Homo sapiens: one gene and its partner. The protein of the gene in region 1 interacts with the protein of each later gene in a pairwise test. Each region holds a gene or a part of one and is shown on either strand. Other genes may lie near its edges. The genes, in order: MOV10 and CEP152.

Evidence for each region.
Region 2: the proteins of MOV10 (region 1) and CEP152 interact in binary tests that used the Homo sapiens proteins (3 or more experiments, as listed by UniProt).

What each region holds. Positions count from the first base shown.
Region 1 is NC_000001.11:112,691,432-112,695,348, reverse strand, and holds part of MOV10 (helicase MOV-10), read right to left. Parts: intron 3,685-3,917; coding exon 3,550-3,684; intron 2,589-3,549; coding exon 2,420-2,588; intron 1,332-2,419; coding exon 1,177-1,331; intron 897-1,176; coding exon 720-896; intron 601-719; coding exon 453-600; intron 1-452.
Region 2 is NC_000015.10:48,741,349-48,745,265, reverse strand, and holds part of CEP152 (centrosomal protein of 152 kDa), read left to right. Parts: intron 1-273; coding exon 274-370; intron 371-922; coding exon 923-1,026; intron 1,027-3,165; coding exon 3,166-3,319; intron 3,320-3,561; coding exon 3,562-3,665; intron 3,666-3,917. UniProt on the Homo sapiens protein: Necessary for centrosome duplication; the function also seems to involve CEP63, CDK5RAP2 and WDR62 through a stepwise assembled complex at the centrosome that recruits CDK2 required for centriole duplication.

The DNA of each region.
Region 1 (3,917 bases):
GGGCAAGTCTATGATGACTGAAATGTGAATGGTGACTCCAAGATTCATGCAGTGCCCTACCCGTACAACAGTGCTCCACAGCCACATTTACCCTAACTTCCCACTTCCCCAATCCCCACCCTTTTTTTTGAGACAGAGTCTCACTCTGTCACCCAGGATGGAGTGCAGTGGCACAATCGCACTGCAGCCTCAAGTGCCCAGCTATTTTTCATATTTTTCATAGAGATAGGGTCTTGCAATATTGTCCAGGCTGGTCTTGAACTCCTTGGGCTAGTCTTCCCCAAGTGCTGAGATTACAGGCATGAGCCACTGCACCCGGCCCCTACCTCTCTTTCTGATGGCTGCTTAGAAGCAGGAGCATTTCGGGAGTGGGAAGGAACTAGAATCTGGGGACAACTGCTTGGTGCTGGGGGAATCAGAGTGCAGGCCCCAGGTTTGTGCTCAGACCCCACCTGCTTAATTGCCTCCACTAACGTGACAGTCTTGCCGGTGCCTGGAGGCCCAAAGATGATGTAGGGGGCTGGACGGGTGGTGCCCGTAACAATGTGCCTCATGGCCTGCAGCTGCTCTGGGTTTGACTCCAGACTCCGGTCGTACAGCCTGGCAGAGGGACCAGGAATGTGAACTTGAAGTCATCCAGTGACCCAGAGGCCTCCCTGACTCCACCCCCTGTGCCCACACTCCAAGTGGCTCCAGAAGCTCCCTGCCCACAGTCTCACTTGAGTTTCACATCTGAGGGCAGCAGCGGGACGTCCCGAGGTGCCACAGGAAAGAGCATGGGCCACAGCAGCCAGCGCCCTGTCAGCTCCAGGGCACGGTGCTGGACTCGCAGCGGCTGGCGGTTGAAGGTAAAGTTCACCTTGAAGGTCAGCCCATCCACAAAGCGGCTCAGGAGGCTTTGGGCAGAGAGAGGTGGTAAGAGTTTGTTGGGGCAGGGGAGGTGGGCAATAAAGGGCCAGAACTTTCTCCACCAACCAGTGTCCCAACCCCTCTTTCCAAGACCTCTATGCAAGTTCTCTAGAAGAGGAAGCTGCCGTAGCATCTCAGGGTACCCCTGAGGAAAAGTCTCCTGCTCTGCCCCGGGGTCTCATTTATCTCAGGGAGAAACACTCCTCCTCCCCTGGGGTCAGAAGTCTGTAGACCCTTCCAGCAGCTCAGGGTTCCCCCAACACCCACCTCATGGAAAAGCTCAGCTTGACACGGTCCAATTCCACCTTGTGCACAAAGCCCTTATATGTGATGGGGTCCTCCTGGTGTGTCTCCGAGGACAAAAGGGCAAACAGGTGGTCGCCCCGTAGCACTGAGGGGCGGCTCTCAGTCACTCCAGGAACCTATGGGGTGTGAACACAAGCAAGCTTCTGTCCCAGGGATGGACGCTGGAGGGCCCAGCCCCCAGGTTCCCCAGACCTTTAAGGGACAAGGACTGAGACTGGCCTTCTAACCTAAGACTCAGGGAGTTATGCTATCCCTGCACCCCTCTTTCCTTTCATACCAGCAGGAGTCAGGGGAAGAGGAAGAAGACAAATCCTCCGAAGCTGCCCAGAGATGCCGAGCCCAGGAACCCGGAGCCTCCAGTGCAGCTGCCCTCTTGGCCAGCTCAGTTCCTGCTCTGCCTATAAAAATCCTGTTCATCAGTTAATCGGGTTGCTAAAAAAATAATTAAAAAAAAAAAAAAAAAAAAACGGACCAGGCATGGTGGCTCACGCCTGTAATCCCAGCACTTTGGGAGACTGAGGCAGGCGGATCACTTGAGTCCAGGTGTTGCGAGACCAGCCTGGCCAATGTGGCAAAACCCCATCTCTACAAAAAATACAAAAATTAGCCAGGCGTAGTGGGGCATGTCTGTGGTCCCAGCTACTTGGGAGGATCACTTGAGCCCGGGCGGCGGGGATTAAAGCGAGCCAAGATCATGCCATTGCACTCCAGCCTGAGCACCAGGGTGAGACCCTGTCTCAAAACAAAAACAACAACAACAAAAAACTTGTTCAAAACTCACTTCCTGCAGTAATCTTTCCTTGAACAAACTCACCCTCTAATTCCCACCTGCAATTGTGTGTAGAAATCCATTCTCGTGTGTAATTTTGGGCTTATATGCACACATTGAAAATCCAAGAGCCAGAAAGAGCTCTAAGAATTATCCAGTCCAGCTCTGTGCTTTTCAGATAAGGGAACTAAGGCTTAGAGAAAGCCAGGGACTTACCCAAGGTGGTAGCAAAGCCTGGACTAGAACCCAGATCTTCCCCATTTCCCTGCTCCAACACATCTTTGGGCACAGGATGCCCACCCTGCTTCTTGCGGAGCCCTGGGAACCACTTCAACTTTCCTCTTGTTCTGCCCTGCTGTCAGGAATAGTTCTGCCCACAGCCTCTAGCTTGGCTGGCTTGAGCCCACCCTCCTCACACTCAATCTGAGCCCTGACCTCCAGCGTGAGCAGCCTGGGGTTCTGGTCCACAGGGTCCCAGGTCATGGGCACCGACTCCAGGTCATAGTGCCGGATATCATGCTCCATCTGCAGTTCCTCCAGGTGCAGCAGCAGCCGCAGCTTCACCTCATAGTTCCTCCACTTCAGGGCTGTCTCCAGCTGGGCCCTGGAAATGATGGTTGGGAGGGGTGAGTGGGGGCAGGAACAGGATGGGCCAGACAACCCCTATGCCCAGGAGTATCCACCTTCTCCCACCTGAAGCTCTGGAACTAGCGTCAAAAAGCAGAGAAGACTAGAGGGATACAGAAGTGGATGAGAGTCAGAGGCCCTGAAGAAGGAAGCCTTGGCTCCTGCTTCCTTGGATGCCCCTGCCCCCACCTCACCCGACTTGCATTTGCATGGTGGCTCTTATGGCCAGAACATTCTCCTCCAATCCTCTCATGACTCCCACCCTCACCTCATTCAAATGTCCTTCTCTGTTCAAACATCACTACCTCAAACAGGCCAGGACTAACTGGCCTTCTGCAAAGCAGCACCAACCCATTCCCTAACCCTGCTTTAGTTTCAGTATAGTTCTGTTCATCTTTTTTAGAGACAAGATCTTGCTCTGTCACCCATGCTGGAGTGCAGTGGCATGATCTGGGCTCACTCACTGTGTCCTCAACCTCCTGGGCTCAAGAAATTCTCCCACCTCTGCCTCACAAGTAGCTGGGACTACAGACATGTGCCACCACACTTGGCTAATTAAAATTTTTTTTTGTAGAGACAGAATCTCACTATGTTGCCCCAGGCTGGTCTTGAACTCTTGGGCTTAAATGATCCACCTGCCTCGGCCTCCCAAAGTGCTGAGATTACAGGCATGAGCCACTTACACCTGACCTGTTTAGTTCTTCACAGCACTCATCACTCCATGAAATTGTAACAAAAATGCTCATTGTCCCCCATTAAAATGAGCCAGGCCTTCATTTGACTGGTTCACCTTGAATGGTGCTTGGTGTATGGTGCGTGCTCAGTAAGGGAATGAATGAATACAGCCTGGGAGGCTGAGGACGGAGGTGCCAGGGCAATGCAAAGAAGCCAGTAGGTAAAAGACGGGAGAGTGCGGGGTGCAGAGGGATGGTACTTACTTGATCTCTGCGATCTCCTTAGGGGCAGTGAAGATACTTGTTCCCTGAAGAAGCATGGGGAGCAGCTGCCTGAGGCGGGGAGGTGGGTAGTATGTCCCCAGCGCCATACTTAACTCCAGGTCATAGCCCTTAGCGCTGCAGAATCGAGGGAAGAAAACACAGAAAACCCCTCACCCTCCAACACTCTGAGAACGCCCCTCTGGGGTGGATGCACAAAGCCCTCCTGCAATCCTACTGCTGAAGGGAAGTCAGCAGCCTCGCTCCAAGGGTGGACTACTCTCATTTTTGGAACATGCGATACTTGGAAACCTTTAAAACTATTATCTAAGTAATAAATGATCACTAGAGAAAAAAATCAGGTAATAGGT
Region 2 (3,917 bases), on another chromosome or scaffold:
TGGAAAACAAAACACAGGCATCTGAAACAGTTGAAACCCAATTCCAGGACAGTGTGTAACCCAAAGCAAGAAGAAGATGGGATACAGATTTTAAGTGCTGAGAAAACAGAGCAAGGGAATGGTCTGAGTAGGGTTTCTAAGGGGATGAACGTTACAGAAAAGCGACTGGAAATTGCACAGTCTCTTCTATAAACATTTGTATTGGGAACTTAAGGGAAAAGAAGGCTTAAAAAATTTTTAACTGTCTAATATACTATAAACTTTCTGTTATAGAAGAGAATAATAAAGTTGTTGAAGAATTAATAGAAGAAAACAACGACATGAAGAATAAATTGGAAGAATTGCAAACACTTTGTAAAACACCACCAAGGTATACTTTTACTATTTTAAAGTGCTATTTTAAAGAAATCTAAGTACAAGTATCTTTAAATTTTTTTAAGTATCAATTTTTTTTGTTATACAGCAAAAAGTATAAAAAAGAAGAAAATCCCCCAAAACCTTATTTCCTGAAGATACCCTCTAGTGACCTCTTGTTTTATATCATTTAAGCCTCTTTCTACACATACTCCACATGCACAATGTGTTTTTAAAATTGAGGCTATAGTATAAGGTATTTTATAACTTTTTATTAATATTACTAGATAAGCATTTCTCCATGTTATTAGATATTCTCCTACATATGTTTTTCAATACCTGCATAAATTTTCATGTGGATTTACTGTTATTTATTGAAGCAACCATAACATTTATGTTGTTTCCATTTTTCCCCTATTTTAAATAACTGTATAGTGGAGATTGTTCTAGATGAGATTTTTAGCACTTCTCAGTTAACTTTATTAGAGTATATGGATACATATATATTTTTCAAATGAAATTTTTCACTTACCATTTCTGTTTTTGTAATCTTTGGTTTGTTTTTTAGGTCATTGTCAGCAGGGGCCATTGAAAATGCTTGCCTGCCATGCAGTGGGGGAGCCTTGGAAGAACTTCGTGGGCAGTACATTAAAGCTGTAAAAAAAATTAAATGTAAGTTTAATTCTGAAGATTTTAAGGATGGCTTGGGCCTTTTTTATTATCACTGTTAAAGTAAACTCAGAGTTTACCAGCAGTAGTTCTTCTAGGGAATTTTCCAAATTACCTTTTTCTTCAATCTTAAAAGAGATTATTGATACCTTTTCAAAATTATGTAGTCATTGATCATTTTTCCCAAATAATATCTTTTGGAAGTGATGTGAGAATCGTCTTATGTTTATATTGTTGATTTTCTTGTTTCTTTTTGGACACTAGTATTAAACTGAAAAGTTAATAATCTTACAACTTAACTAATTTGTAGTAAAGAAAATGTCACATGGGTTTTAAATGAGCAATTAACTATTACTTCCTACCATAAACTTTTTTTTTTTGAGACGGAATCTCACTCTGTCAACCAGGCTGGAATGCAGTGGTGCAGTCTCGGCTCACTGCAACCTCCGCCTCCTGGATTCAAGCAATTCTCCAGCCTCAGCCTCCTGAGTAGCTGGGATTACAGACATGCATCACCACACCCAGCTAATTTTTGTATTTTTAGTAGAGACAGGGTTTCACCGTGTTGGCCAGGCTGATCTCGAACTCCTGACCTCAGGTGATCCACCCGCTTCGGCCTCGCAAAGTGCTGGGATTACGGGCGTGAGCCACTGTGCCCGGCCTCCTACCATAAACTTTTAAGGACTGTAGAAGTGGATCTAGTTAGCAATTGTTCTGTTGTTTCTGGTTATTATTTCTCATAGCTATAAATTTATCAAGTCCTTGTCAGTACCAGGTTGTGCCAGCATATCCTGTAGAGCATTCTCCTGATGTGTGTTTTCCCTGTTTTGAATACTTCTTGGTTTCTAATTCTAATATGCATAGAATGGATATATGTCCCAAAACAATAAGTAGTGTTTATATAGGAAAAATGTATATTAACTTCCTAAAATTACATTTCTTTTTAACAAAAAGAGCAGGAAAAGTCTGAAGTTTCAAATATAATTGGTAGATTCAGAATCACGTGTAGATGTTCTACAAAGCTCATTCGGTATTTATAAGGGAATTTGCTTCTCCGTTGTTACTGGTGCTAATAAAGGGCATATTGCTACAAGCAACGCAACTTTTTGTTAATAATGTATTAATTGGGAAGTGGAATTTTAAGCATGTTTTCATCCTAATGTGATAACTTGTATGTATGTGTGTATATTATGTTTTAGTTATTTTTTAGAAAGTTGGTTGGAGGTTTTGTTTTGACATGTACTGCATTTCATTTTCCATTTCAAATAATGAAAAACAGTCTCCCAGTTAGTATTTTTGCATAGAACCACTAATTTTCAGATGCTTACTGACATTAACAGGAAGATTCCTGTATGAATTGGTATCCTTAATATAACAGAGATGGTGAAATTCTAGATGTAGGATGTAGTCTTGGATTTATTAAAAAAAAAAATAAAAGTTAGCCTTAGCTAATAGTAGTCCTAATCAAAGATATATTGAGTTAAAAAAAAAAACTTGAAAGCTGTGGGCTATGTTTATATGTAAATTTCAGAGGCCAACTATAAGTCCCATCACCCTCCTTGTAGTCTCATTTTGTACATATCTCTTATGAATTGTAATATTATATTTAGTTAGATGCTCAAAAAGTGCTGCTGAAAGAATTTTCAATAAATAATGGAACGTAAATTTTCAGAGCACTAGAGAAGAATGAGTCTCTCCAGCTCATACTGCCTCCTTTTCTTCTGTCTTTGTGTTTGCTTTTTCCTTTCTTTCTGCTTAACCTTTTCTCTATATTTTATTTTTCTCTTTTCCTAACTGGACATAATGTACAATTGAAATACTAAGTTTCTGTACCTCATATTTACAGTATTTTCTTCGCTAAGTGTTTTAGAATATGACAAAATTTAGCTGGGGAATATGCCATGTTTCCTTACTATATGTAGCTGTCATCATTCCGAAAGAACTTATAGAGTACTTCTCATTTGAGTCTACCAAAATGATGATCTAAAATATTCCATTTTAATGACTGTGGAAAGTATAATGTTTAAACTATACTTAAAATCACTTCATCTACCAGAAAATTGATCTGAAGTCTGCCCCTCCTGTTTCTGAAAAAGTGCTAATAAACATACATTCTGTGGGCATTTTCTCACTTCCCTATAGGTGACATGCTTCGTTATATTCAGGAGAGTAAGGAACGAGCTGCAGAAATGGTAAAAGCAGAGGTACTGCGAGAACGTCAAGAAACCGCCCGAAAGATGCGCAAATATTATTTGATTTGCCTCCAACAGATTTTGCAGGATGATGGAAAAGAAGGGTGAGTTCAGTCTGAACAATGTGTCCTGAGATTACCAGGACAACATGTTATCATTTTTAAAGCATTTTCCTTAACCACTAAATTAACTATTTCTACATGATCAGCCATAGGGGGTTAAGAGAGGTTTATGGCTGTGCTACCCTAAATGTTGGCAGAGCCAATAGGAAAACAGAAACCATGGGGCTAAGGCAACTCATTTTTTCCTTTAAACTATATTTTTAATATTCTGGAATTCCCCACAGGGCTGAGAAAAAGATTATGAATGCTGCTAGCAAACTTGCTACAATGGCAAAATTACTGGAAACACCTATTTCTAGTAAGTCCCAAAGCAAAACTACACAGTCAGGTATGTCAAAGTGAGTCGCCAAATGGTTTTTCTATCTTTTCTTCTTTAGCTATTTAATATTTTCAGTATGAAGAAGGCAGGGAAGGTAAGGAGTGAGAGTTAATTTGTGAAGTTTTGTATGTTTTACTTAAACTAGAAGTTTACGCAAAAAGAGTACACAGTTTCCAATTTAAGTAGGCAGACTGAGCATGCCCATCAGTTTCCTATTGCTGCTTCCATCCCTCGAAATGATAGAAAAGATTTTAAACAGCA